Homo sapiens: one gene and its partner. The protein of the gene in region 1 interacts with the protein of each later gene in a biochemical or structural test. Each region holds a gene or a part of one and is shown in the gene's direction. Other genes may lie near its edges.

Region 1 (15,583 bases):
TATTTCACTATTGGTGTTAACTTTCGACAACAGGAGGATAATCGAGGCAGATATTTAGAAATGAAATATATCATAAAATATTAAGTTATTTATATTTAAATATGACAAATAATCCTTTATGCATTGAAAATTTGGGAAGTCTAAAAAGAAAAAGAAAAGCAATCAAGTCCTATCACTGGAGATAATTACTGCTATGATGGTGATGTATTTTCTTCTCATCTTTTTTGTCTGCTCATACATGTGAATGTTTTCACAAGGTTGTTGTGATCACATTACGATACAGTATTGTATCTCCACTATCTTTCTTTCTATTTCATTCACCCTTCCTGGAGTTGAGGCAGGAGAATAGGGTCTTGAGGCAGGGAACCTAAGGCTGATTCATGCTGACTTCCTAGAACTAAATTGAAAGGAAAACCTCAACTTTCCATGCCTAAGTAACAAAAGGACCAGAGGCTACTCCCTTTGTAACCTCCACCACCCCACCGCCCCTAGCCTTTTCTGCGTGGCAGAAACATCTGCAACCAATCAAACGTTTGCATAGGAGTGTAACTTTTGTAACTTCACTTCGGCCTCTCATTGGTTGCAGCAAGCAAAAGCAACCAATCAGACTGATTGCGGGCCACTACTTTATTTGCATGGGATGAATACCAAGTGGCCAGTGGGAAACCTCTAGGCAGTATTTGGACCCCAGAAGATTCTGTAACCAGGGCCCTTGAGCCACTGCTCAGCCAGGTCCCACCCTGTGGAGCACTTTCATTTTCAATAAATCTCTGCTTTTGTTACTTCATTCTTTCTCTGCTTTGCTGTGCATTTTGTCCAATTCTTTGTTCAAAAAGCCAAGAACCTGGACAACTTGTAGTCAAACCTTCTACTGGTAACAGTGTCACTAAATATTTTTCAAAAGCAAGATTTTTAAATAGCTGTATAATGTTGTAATGTGGCAGTACAATTATTATTTAGTCTTTCTCCTGCTATTAGAGTCAGCATTCATTCAGCAATTTAAGTACTATTGGGTGTGCTAGCAGATAAAGGTTTATTGATTATTGAAGATAATCCTTTTCTCAGGCATCACAGGTTGTAGGGGTAGGGACTGAACATTGAACTTCATATGGTATGGCTGTCTTAGGGGTACAGGCAGGGAGCTGTCAGCTTATAACTGGTCATTTAAACCACGAGGAAGTGAAGATGGCATTGCTCAGGGAAACAGGTAGGAAGCTAAGAGAAAAAGACTGAAGGTGGCACCCTGAGGAACACTCAATTGCATTGAACTTGAGATGCACTCAAATCTCTAGATCCCCATTTCCAAACATACATCTCCACTCATTTTTGTATGGACTTACTCAAAAAATTCAAAAACAGCCATTCTTCCTCTTGCCACCACATCCCTCACCCCTGAGATGCCAAGAACATGGAGCTTAAAAATTAGAGTGGTGGTCAGAGACGCCCCTGGGAGGAGGGCAAGGCTGGAAGCAAAGCCCATTCTGTGTGGCTTGTTCATCTTCCTTTCCCTTACATCATTGTCAGGTAGTCTGAGTTGTAATTGGATCATTAAACTTGTTCTGGGATTCCTTCTAAACTGCATGTGTCTGGCACATTTGCCCCACCTGCACAACCAGGAGCCCACCTGTCTAAGCACTGACTCCCCCTAACTCATGCTCCCCCTGTGCTCTCTTCTCTGCTGGAACCATCCTGAGCTGGGTCCCCACTCTCCTTCCACTATAGTATGGTACTTTTTCATAGGGCAGCCATTGACCACTTTGGAAACTAGACGTTCTGCTCTTCAAGCCCTTTGCCCCCACAACTCTCAGGGCTTGTTCTAGGTGGAAGCAGGAAAAGATGGGCATGCTAGTCCAGGACCCTCTATAGAAGGAATATCGGAGGGAAGCACAGGGTAAATCCATGGAGGCCCAGCCATGGAGGAGGAAATGATAGTCATAGGAAATGCCAAATGTCAGAGTGAGATTCAAGACATATTTGTTATTAATCAATTATGCAATGGTGTGATTGCATAAATAATGTGATTTTAGTTGGTTGTTTATTTGGGATGGAAATGTAGTCAGAAATTATTAAGTTGGTTATTGTGTCCCAGTACGCAATCTTTGAGTCAAATGACATTTGATTAGAAAATGTTCTTTCTTGTCTTACATTAAAGCTCTTTCCAGGGGCCTCAACAGGGGATAAAATATTGTGTTTTCTCAGAAATCTAGCAAATCAGAAGGTGAATGTTCATGATTATGATCTCTAAAGGAAAAGAAATTCTCTAATACAAGGTTTTGTTAAGCACAATGTTCACATAAGACATTTGAGGGAGAACCCCTTAAAAATAAGAGTTTAGGGCCAGGCACGGTGGCTCATGCCTGTAATCCTAGCACTTTGGGAGGCTGACGCGAAAGGTCAGAAGTTTGAGACCAGCCTGGCCAACATGGTGAAACCTCATCTCTACTAAAAATACAAAACTTAGCCAGGCATGGTCACGGGTGCCTGTAATCCCAGCTACTCAGGAGGCTGAGGTGGGAGAACCGCCTGAACCCAGGAGGTGGAGGCTGCAGTGAGCCGAGATCGCGCCACTGCACTCCAGCCTGGTGACAGAGCAAGACTCTGTCTCAAAAAGAAAAAAAAAAAAAAGAAAGAAAAAGAAAAATGAGAGATTATAATACCACAATGGATTCTTCACACAGATTATGCTATCCCTTGTTTGAAGATTTTCCAACATATGGCAAATTCTCTTTGTTTTTGGTCTTAACTGAGATTGGAAAAACTGAACTTAGTGTCATTTGAGGGAATTATTATAATGCAGTGTTTCTCAAACTTGGCTGTACATTATAATCACCTGGGGAGCTTTTATAAATCCCAGCTGTCCAGACCACACCATGGGCCAATTAAACTTTTCGGGTGCGACCCAGGTGTTTACCATGTGCAAAGAAGTTTGAAAATGACTAAAATAGGTAACTCTGAAGTCAAACTGCCTGGCTTCAAATTCCAGGCCAGCCACTTCCTAGCCATGTGACCCTGGGCAAGATATTTGATTTCTATGAATTCTATCAGAAAAAAAGACAATAAAAATAACATATTTTTGTAGGATTGCTATGAGGTTTAAACAAGATAATCTATGTAAATTATTTATTAATTTGCTGCAAAAGTAATCACGGTTTTGCCATTAAAAGTGATGGCAAACACTGCGAATCCTTTTCACCAACCTAACACAATGGGGCAGGCATATGTGAATTCCATAGGCTGGGCACAGTGGCTCACACCAGCACTTTGGGAGGCCAAGGGGTGGGGAGGAATGTGAACAATTTTCACAAGTTCAAGACCAGCCTAGGCAACATAGTGAGACCTCCTCTCTACAAAAAAATTAAAAAATTAGCCTAGTGTGATGGTGCATGCCTGTAGTCCCAGCTACTGAAGTGGGAGGATTGCTTGAGCCTGGGAGATGGAGGCTGCAGTGAGCTGTGATCGTGCCCCTGCACTCCAGCCTGGGTGACAGAGTGAGACTTTGTCTTAAAAAACAAAAAAATGAAGTTCTATGGTAATTATTATTAACTAACAGCTTTCTTATTTCATATTAATTACTCTGCAAGACACTTCCAGCATGGTTGCCCCATCTGACACTCATTCACCTCGTTGATTTTTTTTTGTTGTTGTTGTTGTTCTATAACATTCATTCATGCACAAATTCATTTTACAAGTATGTATTCATCTAACATTGACTTAACTATGAGTATGACAGAAGACACAAAAGAAATGTACACATCTGCCTCACCTCCCTTGGAGTTTATCTTCTCTAGTGTGTTCGTGTTTTCCGGTTCAGATCATAAGCATCATGAGCTAAGGGACCATGTTTTATGCCCGGACAGCCGTAGCACCCGGCGCTGCGGATTGGAGACACTGCTAGGCACCCGGGCTGGAAGATTGGGTTCTAGTTCTTGTTTTGCCGCTTACAGGCTGGGTGACAGGGAGCAATCCTGTTGTCCTCAATAGGTGTGTTTCCTCATCTGAAAGTGTACACAATCCATCCATGACTGCTGTGACGATTACAGGTCTACACAACGCGCATGTGGATTTGTCTTGCAAACGTCCACCATCAGGCCCTCAGGAAACAGTGCCGCGCGTGCCCACCAAGGGGCAGCAGATCGCAGTGCAGAGGCCCGCGGCGCTCGACGTCAGGGCGCACGTCCCACCCCGTGACCATGACTGTGACCGTGACCGAGAGCGTCGCTGGGGCACGGCCAGGCGGCGCGGCGGGAGTGCACAGGACGCGCCATGGCGGCCGAAGCCTCGGAGAGCGGGCCAGCGCTGCATGAGCTCATGCGCGAGGCGGAGATCAGCCTGCTCGAGTGCAAGGTGTGCTTTGAGAAGTTTGGCCACCGGCAGCAGCGGCGCCCGCGCAACCTGTCCTGCGGCCACGTGGTCTGCCTGGCCTGCGTGGCCGCCCTGGCGCACCCGCGCACTCTGGCCCTCGAGTGCCCATTCTGCAGGCGAGCTTGCCGGGGCTGCGACACCAGCGACTGCCTGCCGGTGCTGCACCTCATAGAGCTCCTGGGCTCAGCGCTTCGCCAGTCCCCGGCCGCCCATCGCGCCGCCCCCAGCGCCCCCGGAGCCCTCACCTGCCACCACACCTTCGGCGGCTGGGGGACCCTGGTCAACCCCACCGGACTGGCGCTTTGTCCCAAGACGGGGCGTGTCGTGGTGGTGCACGACGGCAGGAGGCGTGTCAAGATTTTTGACTCAGGGGGAGGATGCGCGCATCAGTTTGGAGAGAAGGGGGACGCTGCCCAAGACATTAGGTACCCTGTGGATGTCACCATCACCAACGACTGCCATGTGGTTGTCACTGACGCCGGCGATCGCTCCATCAAAGTGTTTGATTTTTTTGGCCAGATCAAGCTTGTCATTGGAGGCCAATTCTCCTTACCTTGGGGTGTGGAGACCACCCCTCAGAATGGGATTGTGGTAACTGATGCGGAGGCAGGGTCCCTGCACCTCCTGGACGTCGACTTCGCGGAAGGGGTCCTTCGGAGAACTGAAAGGTTGCAAGCTCATCTGTGCAATCCCCGAGGGGTGGCAGTGTCTTGGCTCACCGGGGCCATTGCGGTCCTGGAGCACCCCCTGGCCCTGGGGACTGGGGTTTGCAGCACCAGGGTGAAAGTGTTTAGCTCAAGTATGCAGCTTGTCGGCCAAGTGGATACCTTTGGGCTGAGCCTCTACTTTCCCTCCAAAATAACTGCCTCCGCTGTGACCTTTGATCACCAGGGAAATGTGATTGTTGCAGATACATCTGGTCCAGCTATCCTTTGCTTAGGAAAACCTGAGGAGTTTCCAGTACCGAAGCCCATGGTCACTCATGGTCTTTCGCATCCTGTGGCTCTTACCTTCACCAAGGAGAATTCTCTTCTTGTGCTGGACACAGCATCTCATTCTATAAAAGTCTATAAAGTTGACTGGGGGTGATGGGCTGGGGTGGGTCCCTGGAATCAGAAGCACTAGTGCTGCCATTAATGAATTGTTTAACCCTGGATAAGTCACTTAAACTCATCTATCCAGGCAGGGATAATTAAAACCATCTGGCAGACTTACAAAGCTTGGGACAGTTATTGGAGATTAATCTACCATTTATTGAATGCATACTCTGTGCAAGGAAATTTGCAAATATTAGCTTATTTAATCTGTACTATCCAGTGAGGTAATTTCTTCCCCCCCAAGATAGAGTCAAGCTCTGTCACCCAGGCTGGAGTGCAGAAGCATGATCACAGCTCACTACAGTTTCAACGTCCCCCGCTCAGGTGGTCCTTCCACCTCAGCCTCCCAAGTAGCTGGGACCACAAGTGTGCATTACCACACTCAGCTAATTTTTGTATTTTGGCAGAGATGGGGTTTCACCATGTTGCCCAGGCTGGTCTCAAACTCCTGAGTTCAAGCAATCCACCTTCCTCGGCCTCCCAAAGTACTAGGAGTACAGGCATAGCCACTTGCTCAGCCATAATTTTTATTATTAATCTCATTGTACAAGTGAGAAAACTGAGACCCAGAGAGCTTAAGTGACTTCCTCGAGGTCATAGTTACTTACTGCCTTAGTCCCAATTTGAATTCAATTCTGATTCCAAATAAGTTGCGCTTAAATAAGACAACAGATGTGGGAAAAATATGTGAATGTGTAGTGTTGCTATGTGTACTGTCTTTACAAGTAGCTAATTATTTTAGCACAAAGATGTGCAAAGAAAGGAGACTTTATGGAGAGTTCAGGAGAAAAAGGATTTTGTGGTGGCCATCACTTTCATTCAATTTGCGACTGCTCTGATGGCACATTAGATGAAGTTACTGTTGATCCTGAGTTACGTGAATAAGAAAAACAATTGAACTGCTTATTAAAAAAGTAAACATGTCTTTTAACGCCTATATCTTCTCCACTATACAAACTCAGAAAATACCACTTGGTTGTTTGAGAAAGGCCTATATTTGTGTAAGTTCTAAACTATTGCAGAACACACTACATACTAGCGTCAAAGGGCTGATGACGCTCCTGTTACATGTTTATGGGGTTTTTTCGTTTGTTTGTTTGCTTTTAGACATGGTCTTGCTCTGTTGCCCAGGCTGGAGTGCAGTGGATTGATCACTGCTCACTGCAGCCTCGACTCCCTGGGCTCAAGCGATCCTCCTGCGTCAGCATCCTGAGTAGCTGGGACTACAGGTGTGTCACCATGCCCAGCTAATTTTTAAATTTTTCGTAGGGATGGGATCTTGTTTTTGTTGCCCAAACTGGTTTCAAGCTCCTGGGCTCAAGAGAGCCTCCTGCCTTGGCCTCCCAAAGCATTGGGACTATAGGTATGAGCCACTGTGCCTCGCCCACGTAAAGTAAAAGCGAGAGCCTAACTCCCATGCCAGTCCACAAAAACCCATTTTCTTGTCAATGCTCTCATCATATAGCACTAATAGTAAGATTTGGGGCACCCTAGACCACGATTTATAAATGCATTTTAAAAAGAAGTTCTATGGACAAACCTCTTCTCCCCACATGCACACACTCCACCCTTAAAGTCACCCCTAGGCTGGTAACTTCACGGGTATTCTGAAAACATAACAAGAAACGTTGTTGCAGGTGGAGATACGAATTCAGACTTATTTGGTCATTTGTGAGTACAGCAACTGAGGATAGATCTTAGACCATTTTCCTTAGGAACAATGACATTTTAATGATTTTAGAATTAGTAGAGCCAATTCAAAAGATTTTTCTCTTTGGAATTATTAATGGCATCATCTCTGACTATAAAGCTGGACATGTGTCCTTTACAGACAGCAGTCATGATAGAGGTGTGGAATATGCAACACAGGGAGGTATGTGAGCAAGGTAGTATTGCTGGTCATCGTGTGGATTACCCAACGTCAAGAATCAGGTGCGCATCTGTGAGATGATGAGGGAGTGTATCAGACCTGTGATAACAAGCCACCTTAGTAACTGCTATCTTTCCGTGGTAGATTATCAGGCTTGGGACTGGGGTGGGGCTGGATACACAACATAAAAAGAACTGTATAAAGCAGCTCTTCCCAGGAATGTCATAAGACAGGAGCAGAGTTTCCTTGAGGAAGACATGAAGCTTGCTGTTCTTGATTCTCAAGCACACATGCGCTGAGGGAATAGTTTCAATGACCTGTAAGGCAGATGCAAAATTCATCTTCCGGACTGTGTTCTTTTTTTTTTTTTTTTTTTTTTTTTTTTTGAGACCGAGTCTGGCTCTGTTGCTCAGGTTGCAGTACAATGGTGTGATCTCAGCTCACTGCAACCTCCACCTCCCGGGTTCAAGCTATTCTCCTGCTTCAGCCTCCGCATTAGCTGGGATTACAGGCGCCCACCACCACGCCCAGCTAATTTTTGTATTTTTAGTAGAGACGAAGTTTCACCATGTTGGCCAGACTGGTCTCGAACTCCTGACCTCAAGTGATCCACCTACATCGGCCTCCCAAAGTATTGGGATTACAGACATGAGCCACTGTGCCCAGACAGACTGTTCTTTAAAGCAAGCTGGTTAAAAGGCTTGAGATATGTCATGCTGAACTCCAGGTTATTAAAGAAATTGGAGAATTCTGAGACAGGCAGGAAAAAATAACCCCAGCAGAAAGTAAAAGCTTCCAAGTTGATGAAGAAGGGTTGGAATGACTCTCAGAGGTTGAAACAAAAGAACCTGCCCAGGAGTAAAGGGAGAAGGAGAAGGAAATAGGCTCTTCCAGAATATCCCCCATGCCCTGCCTGGTGAGTCCATAAAAGCAAACACAGACACTTTGGCTCCTGTGTCAGCAGTTCTCACGTCACCCTCCATCTGTTCCAATTTTGCCCAATTCCCGATCCTTGGACTGTCTCCTGCTTTTGACCTTGTTCTGCCTTCTGGACTTGCCGCCTGGACTTGGCTTTCTCAATCTCTTTCCTTGGCATTTTGTAAAAAACTTGGTTCACACTCATAAATCTCCCCTCTACCAAATCTAGCTCTGGACCCCAGGACCCAAACCATCACCATTTTGCTAGTGCTTTATGCAGAAGATATCTTCCCTGGCCCCCGACTAAGTGGGGTGCAGACCCCACCTGAAGTGAATTATGAACCTTCTGAGGAAGAAGCATTAACCTGTGCACCTCAGAAAAATGAGGAAGAACCACTGATGATAGCAAATTTAATAATCCTTACACCTGCCTTATTAAGAAGAAATATATACTGGCGTTAGTGTTCCACTATAGAGATATGCTATGGTGGTGTATCATGGCTAGTCAGGAGATGAACTGTTTTCTTGGAGAATGTGTAGCAAATATGATAGGGTGGCCAGAGACTCACCACAACTACTGTACTGAATAACCATGGTGTCTTCTGTGCCCACAGCCACTTCTAAGAAAAACTGTCCCATCATAAGCCAGCCGTCAGCAGCCAGGTTTTCTATTACATGATCCCCTCGGACCATAGCTACTTAGATAGGGGTGCACACCTAACAGAAGGACACTCAATCAACCAATGATGCTCCACCAGATGTATTAATTAGACCAGGAAACTGGCTTCCTTTCAAGGAGCACAGAGATCCAATTACATTCTGGTCCTTGATTTTTTTTTTTTTTTTTAGATGGAGTTTTGCTCTTGTTGCCCAGGCTGGAGTACAATGGCGTGATCTCGGCTCACTGCAACCTCCGCCTCCCAGGTTCAAGTGATTCTCCTGCCTTAGCCTCTGAGTAGCTGGGATTACAGGGCATGTACCACCACGCCTGGCTAATTTTGTATTTTTAGTAGAGACAAGTTTTCTCCATGTTGATCAGGCTGGTCTTGAACTCCCGATCTCAGGTGATCTGCCCGCCTCGGCCCCCCAAAATGATGGGATTACAACCATGAGCCACCGCGCCCAGCCATCCTTGATATTTTGAATTGAGAAATACGGAGCATGTTAAGCTGATGGCAGCCTGGGGAATGCCAGAAATATGCTCAGTTACAGGGTTGCAGAGAGTCCTTGTGGGCAAGCCACATCACGAATGACAAGCTATGAGGCAAAGGGAACACAAAACTCACGGGAATCCAGGTAAGAATGAGAGGAAGAAATGCATCCAGAAAAGCAGTGGCTTGGAGCCATGTTACCTCCAGGGCACCAGCATGATGATCCCTACTGCAAGATCCCTGGAGCTGCCCTGACTCCACTTTGCCTCTCTGCAAGGCCCAGCTGCCTATGGTTTCTATTCTTGGAGTCCTAACAACTCTCTCCTATCCCATGAGAATTCTTATACTAAATGTTCCACTGCTTCAGCTAACCTGCACAAATCTCTGTGGTTTTTTTTGTTTCTTTTTTTGCAACAGAAAGTTTGGTCAGGCATGGTGGCTCACACCTGTAATCCCAGCACTCTGGGAGGCTGAGGTGGGTGGATCACCTGAGGTCAGGAGTTCGAGACCAGCCTGACCTACATGGTGAAACCCCGTCTCTACTAAAAATAAAAAAAATTAGCATGGTAGCAGGCACCTGTAATCTCAGCTACTCGGGAGGCTGAGGCAGGAGAATCGCTTGAACCTGGGAGGTGAAGTTTGCAGTGAGCCGAGATGGCGCCACTGCACTCCAGCCTGGGTGACACAGCGAGACTCCATCTCAAAAAAAAAGAGTCGTAATATTTTGATGATTGGTTTGGAGAAAATTGGTCTTAAATATACGGATTTTGATGCCATGAGTAGGAAACAAATTCTGTGGGGAGGAACACTCTCCCATTAACTCATCAATCCCTAATACCGGTAGGGTATGAGACCAAAGAACAAGTAGAGGCTTACATACCACAGGTCTAAATATTTAAGACTTATAAATCAAGCCAACAAACTTAAATAAAATACATTTGATCCTCCTACCTTGACAAAGGTAAATGTAAATATTAAAAATATACCCTTTTTTTTGGCCAAGATTGGTGGTACACGCCTGTAATCCCAGCACTTTGGGAAGCCGAGGCAGGAGGATTGCTTGAGCTCAGGAGTTCCAGACCAGCCTGGGCAACATGGTGAAATCCCATCTCTATTTAAATATTTATAAAAAATTATATATAGATAGATATTTTTTAAGAGGCAAGGTTTCACTCTGTCACCCAGGCTGGAGTGCATGGTGTGATCATAACTCACTGCAGCCTCGACCCCTGGGCTCAAGCCATCCTCCCTCCTCAGCCTCCCAGTAGCTAGGGCTGTAAGTACATACCACCACACTGGGCAAATTTTTAATTTTTTTTTATGGAGTCTCACTATGTTTCCCAGGCTGGTCTCAAACTCCTGGGCTCAAGTGGTCCTCCATCCTTGGCCTCCCAAAATAAGCTACCATGCTCACCCTACAAATATACTTTCATTATGATCTGGAAGGCCAGGTTTCAGTTTAGAATAGTTGAATGGAATTTTTGCTCGATTTTGGGATGCGACATTTTAAGAAAGATCATGACGACCTGGAGCATGTTTAAAAGATATGAAGAAGAATCAAAAGCAAAAGCATCGGGGTTTTTTGTTTTTGTTTTTGTTTTGCTTTGTTTTTGTCAGCTTCTAGCTATCTAGAATGTAAACTCCATGAAAGATGTTTGTGTTGTTCCTAAGTGTATCCCTAGTGTCTAGAGCGGTGTTTGACACATTGTAGGCGTTCAAAAATATTTGCTGAATTAACGTGTTTTTCCCAAGGAATTTTTCTAGACTATGTATTTCTTTCATTGATAAAAGGGAAGTGGTATAGGTAGCTGGGTAGCTTGGAGAAGCTGGTCTAGAATTAAAGTGGTTTGTGGTGGGTTTGTGGAGTGACTCAAAGAGTTACAAAGGATTATGGTGACTTTGTGGTAGTCTGGGTTGAAATTGCATGAAAAACTTCATGTTCTCAACCACCACATTTTCCATTTTCACCTAAGTACATGGGACTTTGCGGTATTAAGGTTGCCTGGTCTTCATGAGTCACATCCTTTGTCAAATGATGAAGAGTGGAGAAAACACTGATCTGCAAGCTCTCCAATATCAGGTGATATCAGTGATGCCAACTCCATCTGGAGGGAAGAGAATGAACTAAAAGTGTTCCTGGATCACTCACCTGATGGTGTGCTTGGAGTGTTGTCAAACTCATCTTTGGGTTAAATCTGGTCAATAATGGGTGCATAAAGAAGCTTCTGCCTTTCCCAGGAGCCATCTATACAGCATGCACAGCCCAACCACAGACATTTGTTCACTAATAGGCTGCAAATTATAATATACAGTATACCCATTATGGAAATTAAAAAGCAGTTCATATTTTTTCTGCAAAAATAATGATATTATTTATAGGAGCTTAATTTCCTGACAAAGGACTTTGGTCAAATCAATCACTGGCTTCACTAACAATGTCATAAAAGTACCTACACTGCAAATCTGAAATTACTTATAAAATGATCAGATAAAATTGTGTGTCAAGCCGTAGAGTTTTAGGACTGAAAAGAAACTTAGACATATTTTTATTATGATGCCCTCAAATGACAACCGAAGCCTACGTATGTAAAAAGACTAGTCTAGGTCACACAGGTAGTTAAGAGCAGAACCAGGACTAGAAAAATGGACCTTTCCATATTCCAAATTAACCTCTCTAGTGGGAAAAGATCTAAAAGCCAGAGGCTTGGAATAAACACACATACACACACACAGACACACACACACACACACACACACACGCTGACGCTTGATATTTTACTTGCCCCCCACATCCCAACTAGTCCCCCCTACTACCCTTCCCAGCCTCTTATGACCATCTTTCTGTTCTCTATCTTCATGAGTTCAATTTTTAAAGTTTTTAGCTCCCACAGGTACGTGAGAATATGCAATGTTTGACTTTTGTGCCTAGCTTATTTCAGTTAACATAGTGATCTCCAGTTCCATCCATGTTATTGCAAATGACAGGATCTCATTCTTTTTTATGGCTGAATGGTACTCCATTGTGAATATGTACCACATTGTCTTTATCCATTCATCTGTAGACAGACACTTAGGTTCCTTCCAAATTTTAGCTATTATGTATAGTGCTGCAATAGACACGAGAGTGCAGATATCTCTTTGATATACTGATTTCCGTTTTGGGGTGTATATACCTAGGAGTGGGATTGCTGGATGGTATGGTAGCTCTATTTTTAGTTTTCTTATTTATTATTATTTTTTGAGATGGAGTCTGGCTCTGTTGCCCAGGCTGGAATGCCGTGGTGCGATCTCAGCTTATCGCAACCTCTGCCTCCCAGGTTCAAGCAATTCTTCTACCTCAGCCTCCCTAGTATCTGGGATTACAGGCATGCACCAGCGTGCCTGGCTAATTTTTGTATTTTTAGTAGAGATGGGGTTTCACCATATTGATCAGGCTGGTCTCAAACTCCTGACCTCGTGATCTGCCTGCCTCAGCCTCCCAAAGTGTTGGAATTACAGGCGTGAGCCACTGCACCCGGGCCCTTTCTTTAGTTTTCTAAGGAAGCTCCAAACTGTTCTCCATAGCAGTTGCACTAATTTACCTTCCCACCAACACTGCATGAGGGTTCCTTTTTCTCTACATCCTCTCCAGCCGTTTTAACTGGGGCGAGATGATCTCTTATTGTAGTTTTGATTTGCATTTCTCTGATGATCAATGATATTGAGCACCTTTTCACATACCTGTTTGCCATTTGTATATCTTCTTTTGAGAAATCAGATCTTCTGCCTATTTTCAGATCTTTTGCCCATTTTTAGATCAGATTATTAGATTGTTTTTCCTGTGGAGTTGTTTGAGCTCCTTATATATTCTGGTTGTTAATCCTTTGTCAGATGAGAAGTTTGCAAATATTTTCCTTCATTCTGTGGGTCGTCTCTTCACTTCGTTGATTGTTTCCTTTGCTGGGCAAAAGCTTTCTAACTTGATGTGATCCCATTTGTCCATTTTTGCTTTGGTTGCTGGTGCCTGTGGGGTATTACTCAAGAAGTCTTTGCCCAGTCCAACAACCTGGAGAGTTTTCTCAATGTTTTCTTATAGCAGCTTCCTAGTTTGAAGTCTTAGATTTAAGTCTTTAATCCATTTTGATTTGATTTTTGTATATGGTGAGAGATAGGGGTCTAGTTTCATTCTTCTGCATATGGATATCCAGTTTTCCTGGCATCATTTATTGAAGAGACTGTTCTTTCCCCAATGTATGTTCTTGGAACCTTTGTTGGAAATGAGTTCACTGTAGGTGTATGTATTTATTTTTGGGTTCTCTATTACGTTCCACTGGTCTGTGGATCTGTTTTTATGCCAGTACCATGCTGTTTTGGTTACTATAGCTCTGTAGTATAAATTGAAGTCAGGTAATGTGATTCCTCCAGTTTTGTTCTTTTTGGCTGGGATACTTTTGGCTATTCTGAGTCTTTTGTGGTTCCATATATACATCTTAGTGTTTCTTTTCCAGATGGCATCCAGGTTTGTATGCATGCGGGCCCAAGAGAACACTAGTATTTCCAAGTTAACCAATAAGACCATAATCATGAGGCCAGAGTTTTTACTTATTGCATAAATAGGGCCTAATCAGTCCAACATCCTAAGGCTCAGCCCCTACAGGGGTCAGATAACTTCATTCATGGCCATCAAATGTATTCCAGCAGTGCCTGTCCTTGTAATAGAAAGAGGCCTTTGGTTACAAGGAGTGTGGTTAAAGAATTTAAACATAATTAACATTTTTGTAATACTCATACATTGTTTCACAAAGCCGTTAATTTATTTGATCCTCACATTTCTTGAAGTAGACAGGGCAGGTTTTATTAAGCTGACTTTACAGGAGAAGAAGCTGAGATCCACAGGGATGGAGTGACTTGCCCAAGGTTACCCAACAAATGCCTGGTGCTTTAGGTTGGAGGAGGGCAGCTATTTTTAAAAATCTCTCCCAAGTAAATCTATTTTACAGCCAGGGTTCGGTAGCACTGCTCTAGAGAATAAACAAATATGTCAACTATCCCTTCGCGGGATTTATAGTTATCATTTGTATCAATCCCTAGGTAATGTTCTTTGGGAAGAAATATTGACATCCTTCTTATTTCAGAACTTCAACTCATAAAGTAGGCTGAATCCTGTCAATATCTGAGTGTCACAGGATCCACACAATGGTCCCTACTTAGAGGTACTGTGGAGAGATAACTATTTACATGACAAGAGCAAGGGTCTCAGGGGAAGACTTGGCGATGGGGGTCAGGTTCTGCTATTTCCCTTAAACCAAACGTCTTTGTTGTTTTTTTTTTAATGAAATATTCTTATTTTCATAAATCTGTGAATGTAATTCTTTGGCTCTCTGGCACACAGTGCTCTGCAGCTCTCTGATCTGATGCCAGTGTTGTGTAGGGCTTAACCCACAAGGTGAGGAGGAACTTTAAGAGCCATGTGCCCACCAGGCATAGAGGCTCACGCCTGTAATCCTAGCACTTTGGGAGGCCAAGGCAGGCAGATTGCTTGAGCTCAGAAGTTTGAGACCAACCTGGCCAACATGGTGAAACCTTGTCTCTACTAAAAATACAAAAATTAGAGGAGCGTGGTGGCAGACACCTGTAATCCCAGCTACTCTGGAGGCTGAGGCAGGAGAATTGCTTGAACCTGGGAGACAGAAGTTGCAGTGAGCTGAGATCGCGCCACTGTACTCCAGCCTGGGCAACAGAGTGAGACTCCGTCTCAAAAAAAAAAAAAAAAAAAAGCCATGTGCTAAATGGCAGAAGCCTAGCCTGTAAGAGGACATTCTTTCCAAACACTGTAACCCCAGAGTTTTCTTCCATTTTTCTCTCTTATGTGCCTTTGACTTGGGAGTCATTTCTTTGGAATTTTCCTCCTGAATTATCCCCCTGAAGAGAAGTAACACCTGCTCTTTGTGGAATTGGAAAATGCAGATAAGCATGCAGACATTTAATCACTTTTAATTAGACAAAACTGTTACCATTTTTGAAGTGAGTTCTCTCATCACTATGAAATTCGTATTCCTGAAAATCATTTCACATATACAGATTTTGTAAAACAGAGCATGTATCACATAAACCGCAAACTTTTCTGCCAAAAAGTAAATTTTAGTGGCATTTAATTGAAGTTCAATTTTGGAAATTCCAAAACATGGGATACGGAACTCTCTCTC
Region 2 (16,105 bases), on another chromosome or scaffold:
AGAACTACATTTTAGACACTTTGTTGGTTGTGAGAAACATGCACCTGAGTGACACAAGATAGACTGGGAAAAGCTGGTTCGAAGGCTATTACAATTCAAGTGAGGGATGATGAGTGACAAGGGAGTGGAGAAGGAGACATCGATTTTCGGAAGTAGTAAGAAGGTCAAAGCAGGTAGGACTTGGTGATTGATTAAATATGGAGGTGAAGAAGACAGAAGTGTCCAACAAGATGTTCATGCTTAGATCCTACTTTAATATCTATGAATGAAGCAGCTAACTACTCAGATAAGGTATACACATGAGGTTAGGTCCTGGCTTGGAAGCCTGACCCAATTACTTAATAATTGTGAACCTTCTATAGTCATTCAGCCTTATCAGGTCTCAGTTTCCCCTTTTGTAAGATGAAATCAGAGGAGTGGCTTCACAGAGTTTTAATGAAGATTAAATAAAGGCTATGAAGGCAATTGTAAAGTTGAAAGAGGTAATCACGTGTAAATGTTATTGCTCATGTGTTGCCACTGTGATTTTGACCAATTGGATCTTGCATTTCTGTTTGTAGTTTGCGAAATAATAACTTCTTCCAGTATCAACTATGAAGAAGACTAAATTTTGTAAATAGCATTAAAACTTTGAATTTGGGGGTGGGACAGAGTAGAAGCAAGATAAGATAAAGTGATACCTAATCATCTTTTGCCCTGTTTTAAGCAATAGTCCTCTGTTCTTCTTCATCTTCTTTTTTTTTTTTTTTTGATATGAAGTCCCGCTCTTGTCCCCCAGGCTGGAGTGTGATGGCATGATCACGGCTCACTGCAACCTCCACCTTCTGGGTTCAAGCAATTCTCCTGTCTTAGCCTCCTGAGTAGCTGGGATTACAGGCACCTGCCACCATGCCCAGCTAATTTTTGTGTTTTTAGTAGAGACGGGGTTTCACCATGTTGGCCGTGCTGGTCTCGAACTCCTGACCTCAGGTGATCCACCCGCCTCCGACTTCCAAAGTGCTGGGATTACAGGCATGAGCCACCGCACCTGGCCCGTCTTCTTTTTAATTTAATAGCATTTAACTTAAAAAAAAAAACCATTAGATTGTAGTCATATTGTAGCAGTGATTATATCATAAAATATGTAAAAGGACTGAGCAGTGGTAGATTCATAGTTTGTTCTTAACATTAATTTTCTTTCTTCTTTCTTCAGAAAGAAAAATTTATTTTAATCACCAGTGGTTTGAGCTCCAAATTTCTGTAACAAAGAAAACTCAACAATGTATATAGGAAAGCAAGACCTAATGCTTTTTTGCTCAACATCATCACTTTTGATTATTGGAAGTTTTTTTTTTTTTTTTTGACAGGGGAAGTAACAGCATTTTGAAGTTTTTTGTCTTCTTATCAGTGGCTCTCAAATAATTGCCAGTTTTACTAAGTGACTTAAGAGTTTAATAGTTGTTCATTTAAAAAATTAATACCTTGCTAATAGACAGCAATAAGACCTGGAGAAAGTTGGCTTTAAAATGTGTTTTTCATGGACACATAGAGGGAAACAATAGACACTGGGGCCTACCAGAGGGTGGAGGGTGGGAGGAGGGAGAGGATCAGGAAAAATAACTAATGGGTACTAGGCTTAATACCTGGGTGATGAAATAATCTGTATGACAACTCCCTGTGACATGAGTTTACCTATATAATAAACCTGCACATGTACCCCTGACCTTAAAAAATGTGTTTTTAAAACTGTGGCTAACATTCTAGAGAATTTACTACACTTCAGACAAAATATTAAAGCCCTAGTAAAAATAGTTGACTCAGTAGGATCTGGAAAATTGTTAATCCTCTCCAACTTTCCCCAGTTGGAACTTTCAACCACTTACCAGCCATTTAGCAGCTAAACAGAAACAGTTCTCTGATAGACACAAAGCTCTGACTTCGACCAGATCTGCTTTTTCTCCTCATGGTTAAAGGAGAAAATACAGCATTCTGGCTTAAAAGAAAGGAACAAAGAGTTCTGAACATCTTGTGGAGCGAGTAGTTATTAACAGTTATGTCCAGAGTTAGGAAAAAGTTGATGTGATATGTTTGTGTGTGTGTGTGTGTGAGTGAGGGGAGTGGACTCGTAGAGGAGGAGAGGTTTAATTTTGTCATATGAGAAAGAAAGTGTTATGGTACCTTACAAATAGGGGACTTGTTTTCAGTCTGGACTCCTCTGCCAAAGGGTCTTCAAAACCCCTCCAATAGCTAAGTTCACAGCTGAGTCCAGAAACCAGATACAGAGCTAAAAAATAGACTATTCAGGACAATATGAATCTGGTGAGTAAATAGTGGCCTAGGTAGGCAGAGAGCCTCTGCATCTCATAGGCTATTGGATTTTCAAGTAAAAATACAGATTGCAAAGTCAGGATATAAAGATTTAGTAAAAAAAAAAACTAGAGGTGCACATCCCTGCCCAGATAGAGCAATGAGAACACACACAAAGCATCCAGGCCCACCCAGTGCTGACACATCCCATCAGCTGTACCCATGAAGAGTTTTCTCCTGCTTCTTAGAAAGGAGGAACTTGAGATAGGAAAGAATGTGTACTTAAGAGTATACATTAGGCTGGGCGTGGTGGCTCACACCTGTAATCCCAGCACTTTGGGAGGACAAGGCAGGCAGATCACTTGAGGTCAGGAGTTTGAGATCAGCCTGGCTAACGTGGTAAAACCCCATCTCCTCTAAAAATACAAAAATTAGCTGGGTGTGGTTGCACACACCTGTAATCCTAGCTACTCTGGAAGCTGAGGCACGAGAATCGCTTGAACCCAGGAGGCGGAGGTTCTAGTGAGCCGAGATCACATCACTGCACTCCAGCCTGGGAGACAGAGTGAGACTCCGTCTCCAAAAAAAAAAAAAAAAAGAGTATATTTAATACATTGTCTCAGTGAGTTTTTTCTCACTGAGTAATTGCCCCAGTACTTTTCTCTATCCCGTAAGTCCTAAGTTAGTTAAAAAGAAAACTCTCGGCTAGGCGTGGTGGCTCACGCCTGTAATCCCAGCACTTTGGGAGGCCGAGGCGGGCGGATCACCAGGTCAGGAGATGGAGACCATCCTGGCTAACATGGTGAAACCCTGCCTCTACTAAAAATACAAAAAAATTAGCCAGGCGTGGTGGCGGGCACCTGTAGTCCCAGCTACTCGGGAGGCTGAGGCAGGAGAATGGCATGAACCCAGGAGGCGGATCTTGCAGTGAGCCGAGATCGCGTCACTGCACTCCAGCCTGGGCGACAGAGCGAGACTCTGTCTAAAAAAAAAAGAAAAGAAAACTCTCTAAGTCACCCAAATTACAGCGTGCAGGACAGTTGAACCAGGCCAGCCATCCTTTTGCAGAATTCCCTCTTGAGGTGCTTTATTCATACATGTTGCTGTGCCATCAAAGCACAGTAGTCCCCCTCCACAGAGGTGTGAATAAAATAATTTCTTCCATACATCCTCCCAATCCTCCCACCCCACCCTATATGTCTAGCCAGCTGCCCTTTTATTGAATAAGCCGTTCTTCAGCGCCTCTTATGAGAATTACCCACTGTATCATATATATGAAATTCTGATATGTAAGTAGTCTATTTTATGAACTCTTTCATCTCACTGATCTGTTTCTTTACACACACACCAATTCCAGTTTATTTTTTAAACTTTAACTTTATAACAAATTTAAGCTGACTGGGCTAGTATCTCATTTTTCTTTTCAAAAATACTTTTTCTTCTTATTTTGATTTTTCTGATGTTGAAGTTTCCTATGAATTTCCGTACATTTTGGCTAGTTTCTAATTCTCCCCCTGAACAAGTCATCTCTTTCCCATCTTCCATACACTCACATTAAAGCCTTTTAAAATGCCCTTCAGTAGGTGTTTTAATAATGTCTGCATGGATTATTTCTAACTTACTTGTTTATTCACCCTAATCTTCCGATGAATACAGAGAAACTGCAGCAACTTGATGGAACTATCGACACAAAAGGATGGTACCTCCCCCACAGTCAGATTGTTATTTTATTCTCTGCTTATTTCATTTTGTAGTACTTAGATCTCTAATTTTGTTCATGATAATCCAGCAGATTTAAAAAAATTTTTACACTTAAGATTCTCTCTCTTGGCCTGGCACAGTGGCTCAAGCCTATATAATCCTAGCACTTTGGGAGGCCAATGTGGACAGATCACTTGAGGCCAGGAGTTGGAGACCAGTCTGGCCAACACGGTGAAACCCCGTCTCTACTAAAAATACAAAAATTAGCCGGGCGTCATGGCGCATGCCTGTCATCTCAGCTACTTGGGAAGCTGAGGCAGGAGAATCACTTGAATCTGGGAGGCGGAGGTTTGAGATAGTGCTGCTGTACTCCAGACTAGGCAACAGGTGAGAGTCTGCCTAGAAAAAAAAACCTCTCTCCTTTGACCTCTCCTCCTCATGCTCCCCAGCCAGAATCCTCACCTTTAGCCAAATTCTTCTCCTTGTAGTTACTCAATAAGTCCTGGTCCTCTTTGGCCATCCTGACCCCCAGAGGCTTCTCCTTTCTCTAAAGTCCTGAAGCATGTGTAGCAAATGTGTGTAATATTCACATGATCCATTTGCCACTAAGTCAACCTGATACAGTTATATCATTCTTTTTTTTCATCCGCCCTCCCCTCTCCTTTTCCTCACCTCACCTGAGATACCTACATGTTTCAGGCGGCATCCTGCACTTTCTTTTCTTTTCTTTTTTTTTTTTTTTGAGAGGGAGTCTCACTCTGTCACCCAGGCTGGAGTGCAGTGGCGCGATCTCGGTTCACTGCAACCTCCGCCTCCTGGGTTCAAGTGATTCTCATGCCTCAGCCTCCCGAGTAGCTGGGATTACAGGTGCCCAGCACCACTCCCAGCTAATTTTTTTATTTTTTAGTAGAGAAGGGGTTTGACTATGTTGGCCAGGCTGGTCTTGAACTGCTGACCTCAAATGATCCACCCACGTTGGCCTCCCAAGTGCTGGGATTACAGGTGTGAGCCACCTCACCCAGGCCTGCACTTTCTTTAACCCCTTATTTTGCTAACACTTATGCTTTTCCACCACACCTAGACCATTGTCTGCTCTTACTGGACTATTTTACAAATGGGGTTTGAGGTAAAAACTAAAAAATTTCCAGTAGTGAAAATTATACTTGAAAATCCCTTTAGTGCAAACGGAATGGCTGGTAGCATAGTCTACTTGGCAACAAGCAGATTTGTTAGTCCTTTCACTTCCCCACTTGCCTCTGGGAATATGCCCTTTGAGTGGAACGGTGGGTGGCTGGCACCGTTTCAATGGTGATCTTATTTGCTCTCTTATTTGCTGAGCCACAAAGTTGTATTCTAGTCATCTAAATGCCCTAAAGATGATAGCACATCATATTTAAGTTCTTCCCATTTTCCTGGCCTTCCCAATTCCCGCTACCTCCTTGAAGCTTCCACAGATATTCCACAGCGAGCCTTCTCCTTTCGGGATCTCTTTGGCCTTCGGAGCTGCTTTTTGGTCTTGGTAGCTACCAGTGTGGTGCTTGTCTTTTTCAGAGCAACTCACATACTAGGAGCGTGGATTCTAGAGGGGCTTGAAACCTGATCCTGTCACCTACTAGCTGTGTGATCTTGGACAATTGGCACCTTCGATGTCTTCACGTTCCTCATCTGTGAAATGGGTTTCTACCTCACCGGATTCTTATAAAGATTACATGAGTTAATATTTCTAAGTGCTTAAAACAGTGCCGAGCCCAAAGTAAGCAGTATATGTTTTTCAGGTTGTATCCTTTTACTTAATATTGGAGTTCCTGTTGAATGTAGCTAAAGAAGGAAGAAGAAAATAGTGTACAAGAGCGCTTACTATTAACTGAGACAAATGAATTGGCACCTTTTTTGTTCTCCAAAATGCAAAACCTGCTCCTTTTAATAATAATTAAAAAAAAAAAAAACCAGTTCGCAACTTCCCTGACTCTTTCACTGAAACTCCGTAAGTGATCTTCAAGATCACTTACGAGGTTTCTCTCAGTTACCACTAACTGTGGTTAAAGTACTGACATTTTTATATTAATAACTATGAGGCTGAATTCTCAAGTACTTTCTTGATTAGGCACTGAAAAAAGACAAGCTTGCAGAAAATGAGTTGGCAACTTGGCAACCCCCCAGGGTGTTTTTCCAAAGGCAGCTCTCAGGCAACGTGTTGAGTGAATGCTGTAAGAGACCCACTTGTGTAAGCCCCACAATTATCAGCTCCTTGCTTAGTAGCTTCTTAAAATGTCTGCTGGGTATTCTATGAATTTGTTTTTCTGTAATAATGATTGTAACCTCCTCAAGGTCAAAGGATTATGACTGCTCAGACTTTGTAACCCCTGGCATGGAGCTGGAACTACTGCATAGCTCAATAATTTCCTGCTGATAGATTGATTGTTAAGATGGGTAGGACCAAGCAATGTTTAGATGCTGCCAAACCACAGTGGGAGAAATCCTACGAATAATAGTACAACTCCCCACGATTCCTTTCTACTCTGTCTTCATTGGTGCAACCTACAACTAAGAACACTGATTCCATCCTAGTTTCTCTCATCCAATAATGAAGGGGAGCAAAAGCTGGGAAGGAGACAGAAGTGAAAAGCCTGGATCATCCAATTTAGAGGTTTATTGAGTGAGTGTTGAGTCCTTTTAGGAGAAAGCATGGTCTCCCTGAATCTTCCATTTGAAGGAGCTGAAAGGGAGAGTGACTTCTATGGCATTAGTCAACACCAGGGGGCAGGAGAGAAAGCTGTATGAATGGAACAGGCTGAAAGGGTGGTGTGAGTAAATGGCACAAGCATGTGAAAATTTCCACCACGGTTCTTGGCACCTAGCAGTACGCTATATGTGTTAGTTGAATCCCAGAGTTTTAACGCCCTTGAAAAATTATTTCTTAATTAGGTCGTGTATGTTCATTGTAGAAAAATTAAGAAAAACAACAGAGCAGCAAAACAACGAAGACATTTTTAATCACTCATAATCTCACCATTCCAAAATGAACTGTTCACATTTCTGTAGAGCACATTCTGTTTTCTATGCATGGATACCTTTCCCTCAAAATGCGATCACCATAAATTGTTATTCATGTTTCTCCATAGTTTTAACTGGTAATATTTACTATTTAGCTCAACATATAATCATGGGTAGAGGAAAAGAATACCCAGGGTTCTAGTTTTGGCTCAGACCTAGCCAGCCCCTGGCAAGCAGCTTGACCTGTCTAAGCTTTCAGTTCCTCATCTGTGAAATAAAGAGTTTGATGCCTATCACCTCCTACCTCCATAATTCTAACCATTGATGGGTCATTAAAATAAGACAATATGGTGCAGCGGTTATTGCTCTGGTATCAGCCAGGCTCTAATCCCTGCTCTACCTGTGAGAACCTGGGCAGGTTTTTTTTTTGTTTTTTGTTTTCGAGATAGAGTCTCGCTCTGTTGCCCAGGCTGGAGTGCAGTGGTGCAATCTCAGCTCACTGCAACCTCCGCCTCCCGGGTTCAAGCGATTCTCCTGCCTCAGCCTCCAGAGTAGCTGAGAGTACAGGTGTGCACCACCATGCCCGGCTAATTTTTGTATTTTTAGTAGAGATAGGGTTTCACCATGTTGGCCAGGCTGGTCTTGAACTCCTGGCCTCAAGTGATCCACTGGGCAGATTTCCTGACCATTCAGTGTCTCCGTTTTCTTTTCTCTAAAATGGGATTAATAATTGGACATATCACATAGGGTTGTTGTGAGGATTGAATTGATAGCACATAGTGTTTGGCACAGAGTAAAGGCTCAACAAGCAGCAGCTATTCTCAATATTTTAGCTCAGGCACCAGGCGCCTTGAGGTGATAGAGTAAAAACTCTAGCTGAGAGATCAAGTAGAAACTTGGGAACTAGCCCGGGTGGAACACAGGCACTGGGCATCGTGCTGAGTCTGTTCATTGGCACCATCTTACTTCATCTTCAGAACGTTACTATCTCTGTTTTACACATGAGGAAACTGAGGTTAGAACTTGCCTAGATTCGTGTAGCTAGTAAGTGTCAATCCAAAGACCTTCCAGCTAGTTTTGGTTGAGCTAAAGGGGCTAGAAGACCTGCCATTAGTTAGATATTTCATTTCAAAAATAAAACCCAGGCATGAAGTCCCTTTCCCAGTGATATTCAGTGTGATTTTTTTCTTCACTCTAATAATTTTAACAATTCCACTGTTTGACAGTTGTTTAAAAGACATAGGAATTTTTGTATATTTTAATTGACTAATGGATAGCTCAATTAGGGGAGCAAAACTAGGATGTGGGTTTTATAAAAATAATTTAGACTTGACTTAGACATTTAATTTTACAGTTGTAAATGATGGTCTAAAAATTCTTCAAACTAATCAAAATAATGAAACTTCAGCGAAAGTGAGTGGCTCAGAAGGCCCATGAAACATACGGCGTGATTTTTTAAATTTTATTTTAACATTTTGATTTCCACACCACTGCCAAAGGACGTCAGAATTGAGTAAGGGGTTTGGGTTGACTGCTGCCTCTTGACCGGCTGTATGTGTGAAAAGGGTCATTTCACTTCCGGCTTTAGTGTTCCCCGCAGGGGAGAAAATTGAAGAATAGACAGAAATACGAAGTGTCTTTTAATTAAATGCCACCTTGGTGTTTTATGGGGCTCGTATGCTTTCCTAACAACATTTGTTAGATAAGTTGGTAATTCCCGGCAGCTGTCTACTGTGTGGTGCATCTGTGAACTCATACTAATCGAAAAGCATGCAGCCAGTTTGGGATCGCGCAGGCTAAGGTGAGGGAGAAATGCGGATACACCGGGTAATGAACGATATAAACATTTCAAATGCGATACACATTCGGTTTGAGCCACATCTTCTGTGTGCAGATTCACCCGCAGTGACCCACAAAGCTATTCCCAAGTAACAGCCGCCCCAAGCCTGAGGCACTGGCGCCCCGCCTGGGCGAGGCTGGCTGCGCTCTCTCTTGGCCGGCGCCCGCTGCATGCGGTACGTGCCTGCCCGGCCCCTAGCCCAGGGTTCCCGTTACGCGGCTGGTTCCAGCTGGCCGCGGAGTCCCAGAACCTCCCCGCGATGCCCAGATAGCTCTCTGCACGTCTCGCCCCGGGGCGATCACGTTGCCGGGGCGAGGGCTGGCGCCCCAGCTGGGCGCTGGTTGGTCGCGCCCTGGGGCTCGAGGCCCGGCGATTGGTCCCAGGGATCGGGTCACGTGCTTGGGAGCAGATAAGCGGCCTCTAGGCGCCGGGCCCTCAGTCTCTCCCAGCGACCGCCGCGGGGGCAAGGCCTGGAGCTGTGGTTCGAATTTGTGCAGGCAGCGGGTGCTGGCTTTTAGGGTCCGCCGCCTCTCTGCCTAATGAGCTGCACCAGGTAGGTTCGCTGCAACTCTGCGCGCTAGGAACACAGGGGAACGCGCAGCTGTGGGGAAGTTGGGGGGCGTTTCAGTTCTATCATCTCTGGAAATGGACACCCCAGGGGGAGGACAAGTGGACTGACTGCGTAGTTGAATCTGGCAACCGAGAGGCCTTGGAGGTGTAGAAATTTGGCTCTATTTCTTAAGCAGAGCCTATTTTAGTAATCAGCATCTTAAAGCAGAAATTATCTTAACGTGAATCAGCTTGAGTTAGGATTTTCTCATGGATGCGGCTGTTCTTTTGGTCCTGCACAAATGTCCCAAAGACTCGGGCAGCTGAAGTGGTGAGAACAGCACTCTGACATTGCTGGTTAGGTGGTTTAGCTTGGAGGAAAAAAATTACAGGACGACGTTTGCATTCATTCGTCCTTCTTATCACAGTTTGCCATAGCAAAATCTCAAGAGTTTGAGCAAACGATTACTTTTAACTCTTGTCCAGGACTTAAAGTTCCAAGGAAATCACCCAAACTAAAACTGTCTTTCTATAAATGCAAAAAGTAAAAAAAAAAAAACAAAAAAACCAAAAAAAACCTCCCATAAAACTACTTTAAATAGCTTCTCCAGACATAGCTTAGCAGAAGACTTCTCTAAAAATCCTGCCTATTAACTATTATTAGACCCACAAATATAGCTTTAGCTTTCATTTGTTTGTTCTAAGTTTGCAGATCTCCCAGAAAAACCCCAGAGCTAACACAGTAAATTCTGCGAGTGTTATTACACACTTTTGTGATAATGACCACTTGCATACATGTTTAGAGCTGCTGTGAGGAGAGTTACTAAAGCCAGACTGAGAAATGTCGTGTACAGTATACACACACCTCTTACTTGTAAGGCTAAGATAGGGAAAAAAATCTTAATACCATAAGCTTGGAAATATATGATGAGGGCTAAAGGTCAGAGAAAAGTCTTCTTTATAGATGCTTCTTGGTTTAATATTGCTGAGCATAGTCATGTTTAAAACTTTAAATGGTTTTATTGTCTTTCTACTTATAAATGTCTATTAGAAAATGCCAAAAAAGAACAAAAACGAAAATAGATAATCTATAATCCTATCACCCAGAAATAATAATTATTAAATTATTAGGAAAGGTGTATTTCCTATAGAGTTTTTCAATATTTATAAGTTTGTATATATAAAATGTATATTTTAAAACACTCCAACTTTCAGGTAATCAGTTTTTCCACTTAAATGTGGACTTGTCATGGGCATCTCTTTAGGTGAATTATCAATTATATAGTTTTTAAGTGCATATGAATTGTTGGCTTGTATTTCAGTGGTTATTTGTGAAAAATAAGAGCATGATAATCAAAGTGCAAAGATGATTCTTTGACTTCTTCTCTAGCCTTCTCACTCTCAAAACTGTTGCATGTTATTTTTTTTTTTTCAAGTGAATTACCTTACCAGAGAAGTGTCAATCAATTTAGCAGCAAAATAAGCCAACGTAGCCAGAGGGAGCAGAGGGTCTGGAACTGTGGCTCCTGAACCTGTCTGGTCATTAGAATCACCTGGGAAGCTTTAAGAACATACCCATCCCTTGGCCCTAGCCCCAGAAGTTCTGCCTCAGTAGTTCTGAGTCCCAGGAATTGGAAAGAAAGAAGAAAGAGAAAGAGAGAGAGAGAGGAAGAAAGGAAGGAAGGAGGGAAGGAGGAAAGGAGGAAAGACAAGAAAGAAAGAAAATGAATTCCCTAGACATAGTGACCAGACAGGTTTGAGGACCACTGGTCCAGAACAGAGCACACAGTTCTCAAGGCTGCCTTGGAGATAATCAAATCGAACCCTTTTATTTCTCAGATGGGGAAACTGAGACCCCCATCACCCTCTAAGTGTTTTAAGCAATTAATAGCCTTTAGCCGGCCAAGGGTAGAGGTAGACATAGAAGATCTGATCACTTAATACTGTTCTCTTTTACTACATATGATAGCACCTGCCTGATATCTAGTGCACTGGCTATAATTCAGTCAGCACAAAAATAGTACATATGTATTTGGCACTGGGGAAGAGCATTTCCGATCCAGGTGATAATCCCTCTTCTTTTTGCATTCCAGAATGATCCAGGTTTTAGATCCACGTCCTTTGACAAGTTCGGTCATGCCCGTGGATGTGGCCATGAGGCTTTGCTTGGCACATTCACCACCTGTGAAGAGTTTCCTGGGCCCGTACGATGAATTTCAACGACGACATTTTGTGAATAAATTAAAGCCCCTGAAATCATGTCTCAATATAAAACACAAAGCCAAATCACAGAATGACTGGAAGTGCTCACACAACCAAGCCAAGAAGCGCGTTGTGTTTGCTGACTCCAAGGGCCTCTCTCTCACTGCGATCCATGTCTTCTCCGACCTCCCAGAAGAACCAGCGTGGGATCTGCAGTTTGATCTCTTGGACCTTAATGATATCTCCTCTGCCTTAAAACACCACGAGGAGAAAAACTTGATTTTAGATTTCCCTCAGCCTTCAACCGATTACTTAAGTTTCCGGAGCCACTTTCAGAAGAACTTTGTCTGTCTGGAGAACTGCTCGTTGCAAGAGCGAACAGTGACAGGGACTGTTAAAGTCAAAAATGTGAGTTTTGAGAAGAAAGTTCAGATCCGTATCACTTTCGATTCTTGGAAAAACTACACTGACGTAGACTGTGTCTATATGAAAAATGTGTATGGTGGCACAGATAGTGATACCTTCTCATTTGCCATTGACTTACCCCCTGTCATTCCAACTGAGCAGAAAATTGAGTTCTGCATTTCTTACCATGCTAATGGGCAAGTCTTTTGGGACAACAATGATGGTCAGAATTATAGAATTGTTCATGTTCAATGGAAGCCTGATGGGGTGCAGACACAGATGGCACCCCAGGACTGTGCATTCCACCAGACGTCTCCTAAGACAGAGTTAGAGTCAACAATCTTTGGCAGTCCGAGGCTGGCTAGTGGGCTCTTCCCAGAGTGGCAGAGCTGGGGGAGAATGGAGAACTTGGCCTCTTATCGATGAATTAAGCAACAATGTAACTGGTCTTGACTTGTCATATTCCCCCATGCAATCCTAGGTCTGTATTGCTCAATTTTAGGAAGCCTTTGCTACTCCATCAGTAGGTTTAGATTTGAGCTTTTGAGACCTGGCTATGGAAAAGAAAGACACTTGAGAATTTAGTGTTGGGGTCTGTACAGATGATGCTACCCAATTTGGCTTTGAAGGATCAAGTAACAGGTTGAAAACTATTTTTATAAAGGTAATACTTTTTCAGTTCCCTTCTTCCTTCCCTCTCAATCCACTAGCTTTCATGTTGGGCAAGGAAAAGTTGAGGAAGGATGGCTGATGGTGATGGAAAGCTGTGTTAATGGTATGAGGAATGTGTGAAAAGTATACACAAAGGGCTCTGAAGCTCAAGTCAGAGGAGTGGGAGGTCTGATCATTGTTGGTGGAAAAACGTAAGGTTATTTTGTGTTTTTAAGTTGGTTTTACAATTCTTTCCTGGGGAAATTATTTCTGGAGGGGAAAAAGATCCATTCTACGTATCCTTGTGGAGAAAAGCTAAATAACCTTTAAGAATGTGGGTGGTATTGGAGAAAGAAGATGAATTATAGCTCCGGAGAATCAAGATCTTAAGTGAAGCCTTTCTGTTCAGATGTGATCTATAAAAAATCATAATTTGGGGAAAGTTTAAGCAAATCTGGCTTTGTAGTCCTGATGTTATAAGTGACTTTGTGATCAAACTGTCAGGCTTGGGTTCTTGTTATAGAATGCTTGGTATAGAAAAACCATGCCATCATTAATGGCTAACAACACGTAGGGACTTCATGTCATGTCAAAGATAGCTCTTTGCAAGTGCCTTGATTAAACCAGAAAACTGTCATCGTTTAACCCAAATATCTGAATGGTCATCTGGTAACTCATGGGTTTTTGGCCTCATAAGATGGTCCACTCTGTACACAGGCATTCCTCCTGCAATAATGTTGTATCTTTGAGACCGTTGTCAGTGTACACAACTCACATCCTTCATATTGAAGGTGACTCATTTTTCTGCACACTTTTTTGATGTGATGCTTGACGTGAGGCCCGACACTAGGATTCTCAATGCAAGAATCCAGTACCTTGCACATAGAAGTAGCAACCCATCCCTTGCCTATTTTCATCTTGCTGTTTTCTTTTTTTTAAAAAAATGGATGTGACTTGTTTTGAATGTTTTGTATTATACTTGTTTTTGTGTGTGCATAAATTCATTCTGTAGGATCTTAAGAAAAAGAGTCCCAGAATGTTGCTTCTATTATTGTGCACAACCATTGAGAGGTGTTACAAGAATGCAGTTAATTTTAACATGTGTGATGTGCCATGGTGGAAAAGTACTATCGGAATAACTCTGCAGTGACAGAATTTGAAGTTTGGCTAGCATCCATACTTTTCTACTGTAAATATTTCACTCTCCTCTAGCTATCCTTGATGAGCTTCTCACTTTAAGAATAAATGTGTTTGATATAAGGCCTGAGTATATTTTCTTTCTCAAAGCCACAGTCAAATAAGAAACTCAACTGACATTCTCATTTTTCATTTAGGAACAACTGAGCAGAGTTAGTATGGACCAAGACATGGATCCATCTGAGGATATTCACAAGGCCCCAGTCTCAATAGTGAGCACACTTCCTACCACCTGACCATTGGGGCTGGAGAGCAGGGTCAATAACTTGAGCTGTTGCTACTACTTCTTCCCCTACCCTGACTGTCCTCATCTATGGTTTCTGCTCACACACACACAATCTGCTGGGTCAGGGTTATGTTGGAGGCCATGTCTCAGCTTTAAAATGGGGAAGGAGTTGGTGTGGGAAAGGTTGGAGTGGCTGCTACGTCTTGAGCTACAGCACGTTCCTGAACGGGCAGAACTTCCAGCTGCACAGAGGGGCATAGGGAAGGGGCAGTAGGCGCCAGTCCTGGACTGAAGGGAGCAGCACTGCTCCTTGGGGTGAGAGGCAGCAGGTCCATGAACCTAAGTTGTTGCTCCAGTTCTGCCTAAAATCTGCACAGTGTATCTAAAGAAAGATCTGCACAGTGTTGACCAATCTACTAAAAAGGCCCAATTATGAAGAATAAACTTTTATCATATCATAGAATCCTCTATGTCAGAGCTGTAAACCACAGGCCTGCAGGCTGTATCTGGGCACAGATGTATTTTATTTGACACGGGATTTTTAAAGAATTTATTGCCATGATATAACCATCAGCAGACTACATTAAAAAATCTGGGTTTACTTTTTTTCCTAAAAAAATTGTAAGGTCTCCCCACATGGCAACAAATACATGAAGTTGAATAGTAGCTGTGCCCCTTAGATGGGGCATGCATCCTAGATGGGTCAAACTGCCTTGTTTTGGCCACAGTCTCTACCCATGCCTTCACTCTCTCACACTATCTGCCGAGCTCTGTAAGAGCTGGAATTTACAGCCCCTATTTTGTTTCCTCTCTATTTATGCTGATGGTTTGGTGGACTGCCCTGTTCCCAAGGGATGGAGAAAAATCAAACTTGGGTCTGACAGGGACCTCGAAGACCATGGGGCTCAAGTGCCTAACTTTATAAAAGAAGAAACTAAGATCCAGATAGGTGAAGTGACTTGTTCAAGGTAGTGTGGCCAGGGTGAGCCAGCTGAACAGTGACTTGTCACTTAGTGTCCCTCCCTCTGCTTCACACAGCCTCCTTGAAATCTCCCATGGAGTTGCCCCTTCTCCCGCAGCCCCCTTCTTACAGGAGAGCTATTTTCAGGCAGGCATGACCAGCTTGACCCAATTTTGGGGTGACCCTGGGCAGCTGATGAGGGAGGAGCTGGTCAAAGAGCAGGGTGTTCCTGGAGCTTTACTATCAAATAGAATTAACTGCATTTCACATCCTGATATCTCGCCTAATAGTAGAAGCAACTTTGCTTTTAAAAATTTAACATGAGAGAATAACTTAAATTTGGAATGCATGATATTCTGTTCCAAAAAATATTAAGTTTAATTTAGTTATTTAAGGAAGGACTATTTTTTTTCTCTCTACATTGATGGCTCTCCTTTTAGTTCATCCCCAGACTGAAAGGCTGGAAAACTCTAGGGTGGCAGTGAACTGTGCATCTTTATCAATGTGAATCCAAAAGTTCTGCACAAGTTTGAGTGACCCTTCAAGCTGCAAAGGGAGAATCTCTTCCTCAGCTTTCATCTCTAGGTTCCTCATAGAGTTTTTTGGCAGCTACTGGGAGCTGTCATCTGAACAAACCCTCTCATTAGTGGGGAAGGATCCCAAACTCAGAGCAGTCCATGTGCACCGTTGCTGACTCCTGGCCTTGACTTTTCCCTCTTTTTGACAATGAGTGGACACCCATTCCTGGATTTGGATGGTCCCTCTAAGCCAGTGGTCCTTAACTTTGCCTGCATATCAGATTTAACTGGTAAGCTTTACAAAATACTGATGCCTCCCCCTGAACCTCATAAGATTTGGATTTAATTGGTCCAAGTCGTGCCCTGTGCATTGGACAGTTCTAAAAACTTTCCAGATGTTTCCAATATGCATCAAGTTTGAGGACCTCTGATTTAAGCTGTGTGAAGTGTTTTCAACTGTCCCGATTCAGAGAACAGAGTCATGTAATGGCTCAGAGGATTCCTCCACCCACTTACACACACACACACACACACACACACACACACACACACACAAAATAAAAATTAAAAATAAA

What was found.
Region 2: of the proteins of NHLRC1 (region 1) and PPP1R3C, one has a biochemical effect on the other in vitro, tested with the Homo sapiens proteins (one study listed by BioGRID).

Annotation. Positions count from the first base shown.
Region 1 is NC_000006.12:18,111,287-18,126,869, reverse strand, and holds NHLRC1 (E3 ubiquitin-protein ligase NHLRC1), read left to right. Parts: upstream 1-4,192; 5' UTR 4,193-4,263; coding exon 4,264-5,451; 3' UTR 5,452-6,430; downstream 6,431-15,583. UniProt on the Homo sapiens protein: E3 ubiquitin-protein ligase. Together with the phosphatase EPM2A/laforin, appears to be involved in the clearance of toxic polyglucosan and protein aggregates via multiple pathways.
Region 2 is NC_000010.11:91,626,225-91,642,329, reverse strand, and holds PPP1R3C (protein phosphatase 1 regulatory subunit 3C), read left to right. Parts: upstream 1-9,258; 5' UTR 9,259-9,360; coding exon 9,361-9,374; intron 9,375-11,463; coding exon 11,464-12,403; 3' UTR 12,404-13,888; downstream 13,889-16,105.